Regions from separate parts of the Homo sapiens genome. Here all the other regions are reported to be linked to region 3. Evidence: microRNA targets listed by miRTarBase, many of them from high-throughput screens and not tested one by one. Region 3 holds a microRNA gene; each other region holds the end of a gene's coding sequence. Distances are from middle to middle.
Evidence for each region. The annotated mature microRNA hsa-miR-4793-3p reads UCUGCACUGUGAGUUGGCUGGCU and lies in region 3 at 1,300-1,322, opposite strand. An mRNA with a match to its seed (bases 2 to 7 or 8) in the 3' UTR can be bound and repressed. Matches are read on the target gene's strand: a 7mer-m8 pairs with bases 2 to 8, a 7mer-A1 pairs with bases 2 to 7 and ends in A, and an 8mer does both.

Region 1 (3,000 bases), not on the chromosome of region 3:
TAGACCAGATCTACTGCACTGTTAATTAATGTTCCTGATTTATATAGGTTTGTAACTATTTTTTTCAAACAGTTGATACTTGGATGGCTATTGATGTTCTCTCTTCTTTTCACAGAGCATGTCCTTTGCAACCTGATCACACAAATGATGAAAAAGAATAGAACTTTCTCATTCATCTTTGAATAACGTCTCCTTGTTTACCCTGGTATTCTAGAATGTAAATTTACATAAATGTGTTTGTTCCAATTAGCTTTGTTGAACAGGCATTTAATTAAAAAATTTAGGTTTAAATTTAGATGTTCAAAAGTAGTTGTGAAATTTGAGAATTTGTAAGACTAATTATGGTAACTTAGCTTAGTATTCAATATAATGCATTGTTTGGTTTCTTTTACCAAATTAAGTGTCTAGTTCTTGCTAAAATCAAGTCATTGCATTGTGTTCTAATTACAAGTATGTTGTATTTGAGATTTGCTTAGATTGTTGTACTGCTGCCATTTTTATTGGTGTTTGATTATTGGAATGGTGCCATATTGTCACTCCTTCTACTTGCTTTAAAAAGCAGAGTTAGATTTTTGCACATTAAAAAATTCAGTATTAATTAAACATTACTTATTCTACCCTCTTTTTTGGCAAGGAGGACAAATACGCAATGTTGGAAAACCTTGGATGGATATCTTCTCTTTAAAAAAATGTAAAGATAATTTGGTCTTGAGGGTTTAAACGGTTGATAATGCCTCTACAACAACAAGAAAAAAGATAAAATACTAGGATAGAATCATGGTGGGCACAGTGGCTTCTCAGGAGGCTGAGGAGGGAGGTTTGCTTGAGTCCAGGAGTTGGAGACCAGCCCAGGCAACATAGCGTAAACCCTATCTCTAAAACAATTTTTAGCCGGGTGCGGTGGCTCACGCCTGTAATCCCAGCACTCTGGGAGGCCGAGGCGGGTGGATCATGAGGTCAGGAGATCGAGACCATCCTGCCTAACAAGGTGAAACCCCGTCTCTACTAAAAATACAAAAAATTAGCCGGGCGCGGTGGCGGGCGCCTGTAGTCCCAGCTACTCGGGAGGCTGAGGCAGGAGAATGGCGTGAACCCGGGAAGTGGAGCTTGCAGTGAGCCGAGATTGCGCCACTGCAGTCGGCAGTCCGGCTTGGGCGACAGAGCGAGACTCCGTCTCAAAAAAAAAAAAAAAAAAAATTTTAAAAAAGGCTGAGTGCAGTGGCTCACACCTGTAATCCCAGCACTTTGGGAGGCCAAGGCAGGTGGATCACCTGAGATAGGAGTTCAAGACCAGCCTGGCCAGCATGGTGAAACTGTCACTACTAAAAATGAAAAAATGAGCCAGGCATGGTGGCACATGCCTGTAATCCCAGCTACTCAGGAGGCTGAGGCAGGAGAATCGCTTGAACCTGGGAGGTGGAGGTTGCAGTGAGCCCAGATTGTGCCACTGCACTCCAGCCTGAACAACAGAGTGAGACAATGTCTTAAAAAAAAAAAAAGAAAGAAAAGAAAAAAATATATATTTATATATGAACAATAAAAAATTAGCCTGGCATGGTGGCACACACAGTGGAACCAGATCCCATCTCTTAAAAGAAATTTTCCTAGGATTTGCATTTGATTCGCTATCATAAAATATAATTTTAAAGTTGGAAGTCAATATAACATGAAAGGCAAATCATGCCATAAACCCATAGGCATGGCAAAACTCCTAAGAGCTACTATGACATTTTTCAACATAACCAGAGGTATAATTGAAGAAGTGGGTATAATATTCCTCATCACCCTTTTTGCAGCAGCCTGTTGTCAAAAGTAATCATATTTTAGTAGGCATATTTTTCTGAAATACGTTTGTAATAAATGCATACTTATTTTTACAATACACTATCCATTTGTGTGCTTCCTAAAATTATGTCCTATTTTATTCTTTCCAAATACAAATCAGAGCATTGACCTGATTTTAACACCTTCCAAACTGTTTGAGTCCGAATGATTGTAGATTATATTTTTTGCTTTGTCTTTTAGAGGTGGATATTATTAAACAGTATGTTATTGAATTGGGAGCTGAGTTCAAGTACTTATTTGATAATTAGGTTTATTTTTAAGGAGTAGTTTAAACAAAATATCTTGAAGTCAAGTTTTAATGGATCTGACACTTCATTTGCTATTTTTCTTTTCTTTTCTTTTTTAGATGGAGTCTCGCTCTGTCACCCAGGCCAGAGTGCAGTGGCTTGACCTTGGCTCACAACAACTTCTGCCTCCCAGGTTCAAGCGATTCTCCTAACTCAGACTCCGGAGTAGCTGGGACTACAGGTGCTCGCCACCACGCCCAGCTAATTTTTGCATTTTTAGTAGAGGCAGGGTTTCACCATGTTGACCAGGTTGGTCTCCAACTCCCAACTCCTGACCTCAGGTGATCCGCCTGACTGGGCCTCCCAAAGTGCTGGGAATTTTTTTTTTTTTTTTTTTTTTTGAGACAGTCTCACTCTGTTGCCCAGGCTGGAGTGCAGTGGCGCAATCTTGGCTCACTGCAAGCTCCACCTCCCAGGTTCACACCATTCTCCTGCCTCAGCCTCCCTAGTAGCTGGGACTACAGGTGCCTGCCACCATGCCCTGCTAATTGTTTTTGTATTTTTAGTAGAGATGGGGTTTCACCCTGTTAGCCAGGATGATCTTGATCTCCTGACCTCGTGATCTGCCCGCGTCGGCCTCCCAAAATGCTGGGATTACAGGTGTGAGTCACTGCAGCCGGCCAAGATTCAAATTTTTTAGAAACAATTACATGCCTACATTCAACTTCAGTCTGGGAGCAGTGGCTCACGCCTATAATCCCAGCACTTTGGGAGGCCGAGGCAGGTGAATCACCTGAGGTCAGGAGTTCGAGACCAGCCTGGCCAACATGGTGAAACCCTGACTCTACTAAAAGTGCAAAAAAAGACTGGGCATGGTGGCTCACGCCTGTAATCCTAGCACTTTGGGAGGCCAAGGCGGGCAGATCAT
Region 2 (3,000 bases), 64 Mb from region 3:
TCCATTTAAGCTTTTCATTCATAGTTTGCTAATGAATATGCACTACCATGGCCGTAAGTGTCACTTAAAACCATCTTTTTTTCTATTGTAGGTTGATGCTCACCTTAAGAGTGAGCAAACAGAAGCAAGCACCAGGCAAAATTCCCAAGTACTGCTATCAGAAACTGGAATTTATGATAATGACCCTGACCTTTGTTTCAGGATGCAGGAAGGGTCTGAAGTTTATTCTAATCCATGCCTGGAAGAAAACAAACCAGGCATTGTTTATGCTTCCCTGAACCATTCTGTCATTGGACCGAACTCAAGACTGGCAAGAAATGTAAAAGAAGCACCAACAGAATATGCATCCATATGTGTGAGGAGTTAAGTCTGTTTCTGACTCCAACAGGGACCATTGAATGATCAGCATGTTGACATCATTGTCTGGGCTCAACAGGATGTCAAATAATATTTCTCAATTTGAGAATTTTTACTTTAGAAATGTTCATGTTAGTGCTTGGGTCTTAAGGGTCCATAGGATAAATGATTAAAATTTCTCTCAGAAACTTATTTGGGAGCTTTTTATATTATAGCCTTGAATAACAAAATCTCTCCAAAACTGGTTGACATCATGAGTAGCAGAATAGTAGAACGTTTAAACTTAGCTACATTTTACCCAATATACAAACTCGATCTTGCCTTTGAAGCTATTGGAAAGACTTGTAGGGAAAAGAGGTTTGTGTTACCTGCATCAGTTCACTACACACTCTTGAAAACAAAATGTCCCAATTTGACTAACCAACCATAAATACAGTAATGATTGTATATTTCAAGTCAGTCTTCCAAAATAAGAAATTTTTGCTGTGTCAGTCTAAGAATGGTGTTTCTTAAATGCAAAGGAGAAATCATTTTAGGCTTGATGTAAGAAAATGAAAATAATAAATGGTGCAATAAAAATATAGAATATACCAATTGGATATAGGGTAGATGTTCCACATACCTGGCAAACAAATGCTTATATCTACTCTGTTAGATTGATAAGCAAATATAGGTATTAATGGAGCAGTCAACGTATAGCACATTTATGAGGAAAGTAGAGACTCACTGGGTCACATAGACTAATGGATAGGAATGTGACATAATGCTGCTGAATTAATATACTTATGGGCATCTGAATAGTTTAAAAGTTAGTCAGAATAGGTATCACTGGGCAAGTGAAGATAGCTTAAACTGCTTCATGCTTGACTTGATAGCAAGTTAAAGTGCAATTAATGGAATGGAGGAAAACCCAGAATATTTAATTGGTCTGTAGGGGTCAATTTGCTTTCATTCACCACATCTGCATCTTGCTGTTCTTCTTACTAAGGAATCAGGGCAAATCATCTGTAGTGACATATTTTAGTTTGCTAATCATTTATTTTAAAATACTGAGGTTGCAGCCACTTAAGAGTATAGCAAAAGATGGATTCAGATTTTTGGACTTTCCAAAGTACTTGAGTTAAACTATTTCAAAAATAGCCTATAATTTTATTCAACAGTTTGAGGCTATTCGAATTCTCAGGTGCTGCTACTGAATAATGTAATAGTCTTCATACAAAGTGGATAGCAAAGGTTAAAATCCATTTCAACAAATATGTGAGCTGAGCTGCTGCACAAAGGAATGTGATGTGTGTGTGTGTGTGTGTGTGTGTGTGTGTTAGGTGGGGTGGGTGACAACAGAAATGGTGCACGAGAAACTGATCAAATTGACATTATATTTTCAGTTTGCTTATGAAGCTCAAAATACTAGAGTAAATGGGTCATTAAAGAAAATAATATGTGAAATTATGGAGTTTAGAATACAAGTGGGGTATATATACAAAAAGACAAAACTGAGGTTTTGTGGTGGAGAGATTTTCTTAAGTAACACTGGCATTAAGTTTTAGCTCCTTAGATTTGGGGGTGCAAATATTCTTTTGAGTCACTGTTATTTTGCCAATTACACCTAGAATTTCAAGCAACCAATTCGAGATAGGCTGTTTTAGCCAGGCTGCATTTGTGGACAACTTATGTAAGAAAGACATGTTAGAATAGCTGCTTGTGGTATTCTTAAAAATAGAAACAGGAAATATGGGGAGGATACATTTAGCTGTCCTCTTATCAGATGAACACACGAAATTGAACAGTTCCTTCATGATTCTCTCAAACTTAAAAGCAAAATATTTCTGTCTTATTTAAAATATCCTTAGTATGTCTTATAGTAAAGATAATGCTGATAATGATTTCATCTCTAAGATGTATTAATATATTTGTACTGTTTGCCAAAATCACAAATCATTTATGTTTTTATTCCTTTTCAAAATGGTGTCAGAGACATACATGCATTTTCCCAAATGACTCTACTTCACTATTATTTACATGGCTTATTTCATTAGTTTATAGAGGGTTTGAGAAAAAGAATATGTAGATAATTTAATGGTTTTTCACAAATTTTAAGCTTGTGATTGTGCTCAATGAGAAGGTAAAGTTATTAAAACTTATTTGAAATCAATTTGGCATCTGATTTTGTACCCCAAAATGTGTGGACATGAATAGAATACTGATTCTTAAACCCCCTGACACATAAAAGCGACCCGAATAACTTGCTAAACTGCAGACTATTAACTTGCAGCACTAAGAAATTCTGATTCAGGAGGTCTAGAAAATGGCTCTTTAATCATCATCTTTAAAAGACATGCCAACCAATTTTAATATGTTTCCCAGTGTCCACAATTTGAGAAAACTAGTAGAGGCTAGGTTTGGTATATGTGGTTTATTTGATCAGTTTTGTGCACCAACCAAAACTATCTAGTCCCCAGAATGAATTCTCTGGCGCGATCATATCTATTTTGCTAAATATATAAACTTTTTTCAGAGCACTTTTAGGTTCAGCAAAGCTAAGCGGTGAGCATTGAGAGTTTCTATACCGTCTTCCCCCACACATGCACAGTTTCTCCCATCATCAACATCCTGTACTTCAGTGGTGCCTTTGTTACAATCAGT
Region 3 (3,152 bases):
AGAGTGTGAGCTAACCCTGAAGCAGCCTAAAACTCTGGCTTCTCAGGGCCCCCATCCCGACTCACCAGCCCAGGTGCTGGCCTTGCCTCCTCAGGCGCTGCCTTCCTGCCCAGACAGGCTGGCATCCAGGCAGCCCGAGCATCTGCATTTAGGACACAGAAGAGCAGCAGCACCGCCAGGCCCTGTGGGTCAGCGAGGGTCAAAGCAGAGTCGGCAGGGATCAATCAGGGACCAGTATAAGTCACTGTGGGTCAGCAATGGGGTCAGTCACTGTAGGCTAGTGTGGGTCAGTGAGGAGCCCATGCGGGACTCAGTAAGGGAGTTGGGGAAGGTCAGCAGGGGAGAGGATGGAGCAGCAGGAGTGGCTGGAGTCTGTAAGGTCGGTGTGGATCAGCAAGGGGTCGGGAGCCTTGGTGTTGGTGAAGGTCGATCCAAGATCAGCACTCAGTCTGGGATCAGTGCCTAAGTTAGAGTCAGCTCCAGGCCTGGGGGCAGCAGCTAGGGCCAGTGTCTGGTCTGGGGTAGTACCCAGCCTGGCAAAGTTATCCAGTAAGAGTCAGCTCCAGGCCTAGGGTCAACGTCTGCCTAGGGATGGCCCCAGCCTACTGAAGGCCCACCTGGTTCTGGGGCAAGGGAGGGGCACCAGAGTCACCTGGAGGCCGCAGAGTCCAGCATGGAGGTAGTGGAAGGCTAGGATGCTGTGGTTGACTGCCAGGAGCCCAAAGAGCCAGGAGGCACTGACCAGCAGAAGCAGCAGGAAGGAGCTGCGAAGGGTCCTGCTGTGGGGACATGGGAAGACACAGGAGGACATGCAAGGCTCATGTAGGACTCATGCAGGGAACACGGGAGGACACACAGGGGCCACACACGAAACGTGAAAAAAAGGAACTCACACGGGAACATGGAGGTCTCTGGAGGACACTGGGGGAGATGGGAGGTCCCACAAAGAAACAGGAGAGCAGTCAAAGAGCCATGAGGACACGTGGGGAAAACACAGGGGTATGGGAGCCACAAGGGAGGGCACGGAAGACAGGTGGGAACACACAGGGCAGGGGGCAAAGTGAGCCACCCAGGCCATGGGAGACTCTGGGGGGACCCAGAGGACAAGGAGAGACAGCAGGGCAGAAGCACATGTGGGGCTACAGTATAGCGAGGGCGCCAGAGAGGGACCACAGGTCAGGGCAGGTGTGACTTCATTCCTTCATCTAGAACTTGGAGCCCAACCTGCACCAGGGAAGATCTGGGGGCCCCAGACCCCACCCAGGAGGGACCTGCCATCCTGAGAAGCCCCCTTCCTCCAGCCAGCCAACTCACAGTGCAGAGGTCTTCTTGGCCTCCCTCTGCCCTGTGGAGCAGGATGTGCGGGCAGCGAGGAGAAACATGGTCCCGTTCATCTGGACCCACGGCCAGACATGTGGGGCCGGGCAGGGCAGAGAGAGAGAGAGAGAGAGAGGCAATGAGAGACAGAGAGAGACTAAGATTCACGGAGAGAGGCAGAACCAGTGAGAAATTCACACATATACACACACACCAAAGGAGCTTAGCATCACAGAAAAAGAAATTGGGAACCAGAGAGGGACTGAGAGAGAGAAGCAGAGACAGAGGCAGGGACAGGCAACTGAATCTCTGACCCCGCGCCCCCATCTCCATGCCAGTTGAATGGGGGTGGCTACTGACCAGAGGACAGAAAAAATGAAGGCCGAGCCCAGGAAGCCTGCAGAATGCCACCTGACCGCCCTCAGCTGAGTCCACTGCACCTCCTCCCCCAATGAGGGAGGGAAGTACAGAGGGGGCACCAAGTCCAGGGCACTCACCACTATGACCAGGACAACAGGGCCAGCAAAGCTCCAGATGAGGGGCTCGTGGACTGAGATCCAGCAGAAGTCAGGGTTCCCATAGCCCTCAGGGTCCAGGCCCACAGCAAGGCCTTGGGAAGAGAAAGGGTAGGACTGAGGGTGTGTGTTCCAGAGCTGCTGACCAGCCCATGTATGGGAGAAAGCATGGGTGAGGGCAGAGCAGCAACCCCATGAATAGATGGCTTGGGGTTTGAGGTTGGGGGTCATGAGCAGGAGTGGGGACAGGGTCAGGGGTCAGGCCATGTGATGGTTGGAGGTTGGGGGTCACAGCCCTCACCCAGCAGCACAGCAGGGACGCCCCAGCCCAGGGCATGGTAGAAGCGCATGGCGCCGCGGTCCACGTTGCGTGGCTCAACCTGCATGCGGTAGAGGTGCAGCCCCTGCACGAAGAGCCACGCGAAGGTGCTGAGGAAGAAGTAGTGCAGGAGGATGGCGACTGCAGTGCACACCAGCTGAGGGCAGGGGGGCGTGTCAGGACCTCTCCTGCCTCACCCACCTCTGACCCCTACCCCAGGCATCTGCTTCCCACCTCTCACCCCTAAACCACAATATCTTACCCCAGCATCCTGCTGAAAACCCTGGCCCCAACCTGAGCATCCCTGACCTCTGACCCTGAGTTTTGGCCCCAGGCCTCCTGGGCCAGTAGGGTCATCAGGACACAAGTTCCCTGGCCCTGATCCTGCACCTGATTGTGGGTCCTGTGAATCCCCAGCAGGAAGAGGAGCTCTGCCACCCCCAGGGCGGCTGCCACATTGGCATGGATCCCACGCACATTGGACTTGAGGCTGCGCAGGCTCAGCAGGATGGCTGCAGTCAGCACCAGCGCAGCCACAGACACAGCCACGACCACGTGGGTGAACACAGCCAGCAGCTCCAGGTCGCCCTCCAGCCTCTACAGAGACAGGGATGGTTGATGGGTTGTTGGGCAGAATCCCCGTGTCCCTTTGACCCCCCACTTCCTTGGGACACTGAACACAGCCCCACCTCACGGGGAGAGGCATCCATGAGGACCCCAAAGGTCCCTGTCCGGCTGCAGCGACACCGTGCGTGGGACCCATTCCTGTGCACCAGCTCGCAGTCCCGTGCTGTCCACACACCATGCTGCTCCGCCCTGCAGCCACAGGGCAGTTAGACACAACTGTGACCCAGTGTCAGGCAGGGGTTTGTGAGAGATCATGGGAAGGGCTGAGGGTGCCTGGAGTTGGGGTACAGCATTCCTCATGGTCCGGGTTGCACAACAGCACTAGTGGGGGCCCCAGGGGAAGGCTGGGACTATTAGTTGGCCTCCCAAGGGCT
Region 4 (3,000 bases), 3.6 Mb from region 3:
TGCAGGGCACCTAGTCCTGCTTGGAAGGGGCTGGGAGGTTGGGGAATGTCGAGAATGGAGGGCTAGGGCTCCACACAGTGAATTCAAATAAGGGCTCTTCAGTGAGGGAAGGAAGCCGCAGCCCTCCTTTGGCCCTTTATGCAGGGTCAGCATCTCGGCTCACAAGGCCAAGGGTCACTGGGCAGGAACCAGACTTTCAGAAGGGAAAGGTGCCATAGGCAACGCCAAGGGCATGACTTAAATATCCTATCCTCTGGAAAGTGTTCAAGAGGTCTTGCAGTACACGCCATTTAGGAGACTATAAAATTCCTTTCATTTATGCCATGTGAACAAGTTGAGGCGGTGCATTTCCAAGGTGAATTCATTGAATACAATGAAGTACATTTATTTTTTGAAGGAAGTTTTTGCCGCAGAAATATTGAACTTGGGACTGTGCTGACAAGCTATAACATAATCCCTCTCCTTCCAGATCAGAGCAGGGGTGAGGAAGCAAAAGTCCACAGTTACTGGGCAGGTAATTGGTATAAATGAGGGTGTGGGGCTGGATGCGGTGGCTCACATCTGTAATCCCAGCACTTTGGGAGGCCGAGGCAGGAGGATTGCTTGAGCCCAGGAGGTTGAGACCAGCCTGGGCAACATGGTGAAACCCTGTCTCTACAAAAAATACAAAATTAGCTGGGCATGGTGGTTTGTGCCAGTGATCCCAGCTATTTGGGAGGCTGAGGTGGGAGAATTGCTTGAGCCCAGGAGGCAGAGGTTGCAGTGAGCCGAGATTGCGCCACTGCACTCCAGCCTAGGCAACAGAATGAGATCCTGTCTCACATTAAAAAAAAAAAGAAAAAGAAAAAGAAAAAAAAGAAAAAGGGTAATGTGAGCACACATTGGTCTCATGGTCTACTCACCTGATTAGAGATTAATCCCAGTCTTTCTTTTTCATTACAATAAATGCAACCTGCAGGGGCATTGATCAGTAGAAACAAACACTCAGCCTCATTGTGGGAAGTGATAGGGCGTAGTGTGGGCTGTGGTGACCTGGTGAAGTGGACACCCCTTCTAAAGGCAGAGCTGGTGCCCAGCTCCAGCCAGTTGTTGCTAGGTGAGAATGTGAGCCCCAGCATGGCCAGATCTTCTGATCTGGGTTTTTTTTTAAGTGTTAGAGTCCGCAAGCTAAACAAAACATCCCTGTGCGCCAGATCATTTTGTAGCCTCTCCTGTGGGAGTCAGTGGCAGGAAGGTGTGGTAGGCAGAATAACAGCACCCCAAAGATGTTCTGGTCCTAATCCCCACCTGTGGCTATGTTGTCTTGCATGGCAAAAGGCTCTTCCAGGATGATGAAGGAACTTTAGATGGAGAGATTATCCTGGATCTTCCTGGTGGGCTTTGTAAGTCAAAGAGGGAAGTGGGAGGGCCAGTGTCACAGTGATGCCATGTGAGAAAAGCTTGACCAGCCACTGGAGCCTGGGAATGCAGCCAGCCTCTAGAAGCTTGAAATGGCAAGGAACCGGCTTCTCCCTAGAGCCTTCAGAAGGAGCACAGCTCTGCTGACACCTTGATTTTCATTCAGGGACATCCATTTTGGAATTCTGATCCCCAGGACTATAAGCTAATGTGTTGTTTTTAAGCTACCAAGTAATAGGTTGCAGTGGCAACAGAAAACTAATGCAGGGGGCCACTGTTTGGTATATATTTAAACATTTTTAGAGGATGAGAATATTCTCTAAATTTCTCTTTAAATGTCAAAGTATTGCTGCAGCTAGGAGAACCGCACATGGAAACTTGAGGAAATTTCTCTTATTGCTAGGACTATAGGACAATGGGATTCAAGATGAATTTCCACAATGGGATAACCACGAACCGACCTAGAGAATCAGGAAGTCTCTTATCAAAGCAGATATGTGTCAATGCTGCTCAAACACACACATTCTTTTCTGGTTGGACAGATTGTAAATTATTCCCACCACCTGGGGGACAGGCACACGTTTATCTAGCGGTCAGTAGAAGTCACAACCCAGGCATCCAAACCAGTTAGTATGAGTTATTACTAAGTCAGGTGAAAAGAGCTAGGTGGTTATACATTTGATCTCTTAAATAACACAGGACCACCAAATAAATAATAATAAAAAGGCACATTGTCGTTTTCATCCTGGGGACCCCAGTGAGAGTAGGGACCTCAGGTAGGCTCCTTGGAATTGGAACTGTTGTCCTGAAGAGGGCAAGCCTCTGTTTAACACTCTGAATCCAGGGCTTGCTGCAACCCTATGCTAGGTGACTCAGGCCTCTCTCCTCTCATTACAGGCTGGCTAACCGCACAGCCTAAGTTGAGGAGCACATGAGCTGTCATGACTGTATCCAGATTGGAATTCATCATTTTCAATGTCTTGCCCTTAGAATGAGTCCACTGAGCAATGTGAAGTTGGCGGTGTCCAGGAAAACCTCCTGCTGTTCCTTCTGTATAATTCCTCTTCTTTAGGATTTCTGGTTAGGAACACGGACGGGTGTCTCAGTGCCCTGCTTTATGAAACTCAGCAAAGCGTCTGGAATGGATCAAGTTATTCTGCTGGCTCCATGGGCTCCTGAGTGTTCAGTAAGGGAATGTCTGTGTCCTTGCTGCTTACATCCCCATTGTTGGGATGGGAGAAGGTGTACGGTTCACTCTCAGACTCAGGAGGGGAGCGAGGAGGTGGCTCCTCAGTGGCCAACTTTGCAGTTGGGGCCCTGGAGCATATGGTGGGTGGGGAGGGAGGACAGACCCCCATGGTGCCCTGGAACGGCCGGTAGGTGTCCACCTCTGGCTGCAGGAAGGAGCCGCTGGAATCCTGTAGCAGATGCCCATATACCATGGTGTCCTCGATGACTGCATACACATGGGAGTCATTGTCCTTTCGCCCTTTCTGAAACTTTTTTGGCTGCCTCGGCATCTCAGTATTGATGTTGTCATTGTAGATACCCACAGCGGGGCCCTTGTTTGTCTTCTTTTTCCTATTTGGAAAAATGGAACAA

Region 1: miRTarBase lists PCLAF as a target of hsa-miR-4793-3p. Seed matches in the 3' UTR shown: 7mer-m8 at 1,213-1,219.
Region 2: miRTarBase lists BTLA as a target of hsa-miR-4793-3p. The part of its 3' UTR that is shown has no 7-base or 8-base seed match.
Region 4: the mRNA of CDCP1 is a reported target of hsa-miR-4793-3p. Seed matches in the 3' UTR shown: 7mer-m8 at 782-788.

The regions. Positions count from the first base shown.
Region 1 is chr15:64,363,191-64,366,190 of GRCh38, reverse strand. PCLAF (PCNA clamp associated factor) reads left to right here. Exons shown (of 4, transcript NM_014736.6): 4 at 116-1,887. The coding sequence ends at 161. Among named protein-coding and RNA genes, the nearest start is that of CSNK1G1, 8.5 kb to the right of the region's middle.
Region 2 is chr3:112,463,475-112,466,474 of GRCh38, reverse strand. It overlaps BTLA (B and T lymphocyte associated), which reads left to right. Exons shown (of 5, transcript NM_181780.4): 5 at 92-2,509. The coding sequence ends at 367. Among named protein-coding and RNA genes, the nearest start is that of BTLA, 34 kb to the left of the region's middle. RefSeq lists enhancers at 1-383, 2,821-2,960.
Region 3 is chr3:48,642,902-48,646,053 of GRCh38, forward strand. It overlaps MIR4793 (microRNA 4793), which reads right to left and starts at 1,379; the gene lies at 1,293-1,379. CELSR3 (cadherin EGF LAG seven-pass G-type receptor 3) reads right to left here. Exons shown (of 35, transcript NM_001407.3): 23 at 2,841-2,967; 24 at 2,542-2,748; 25 at 2,134-2,308; 26 at 1,815-1,927; 27 at 1,315-1,394; 28 at 653-776; 29 at 66-182.
Region 4 is chr3:45,083,089-45,086,088 of GRCh38, forward strand. CDCP1 (CUB domain containing protein 1) reads right to left here. Exons shown (of 9, transcript NM_022842.5): 9 at 1-2,979. The coding sequence ends at 2,550. Among named protein-coding and RNA genes, the nearest start is that of CLEC3B, 58 kb to the left of the region's middle.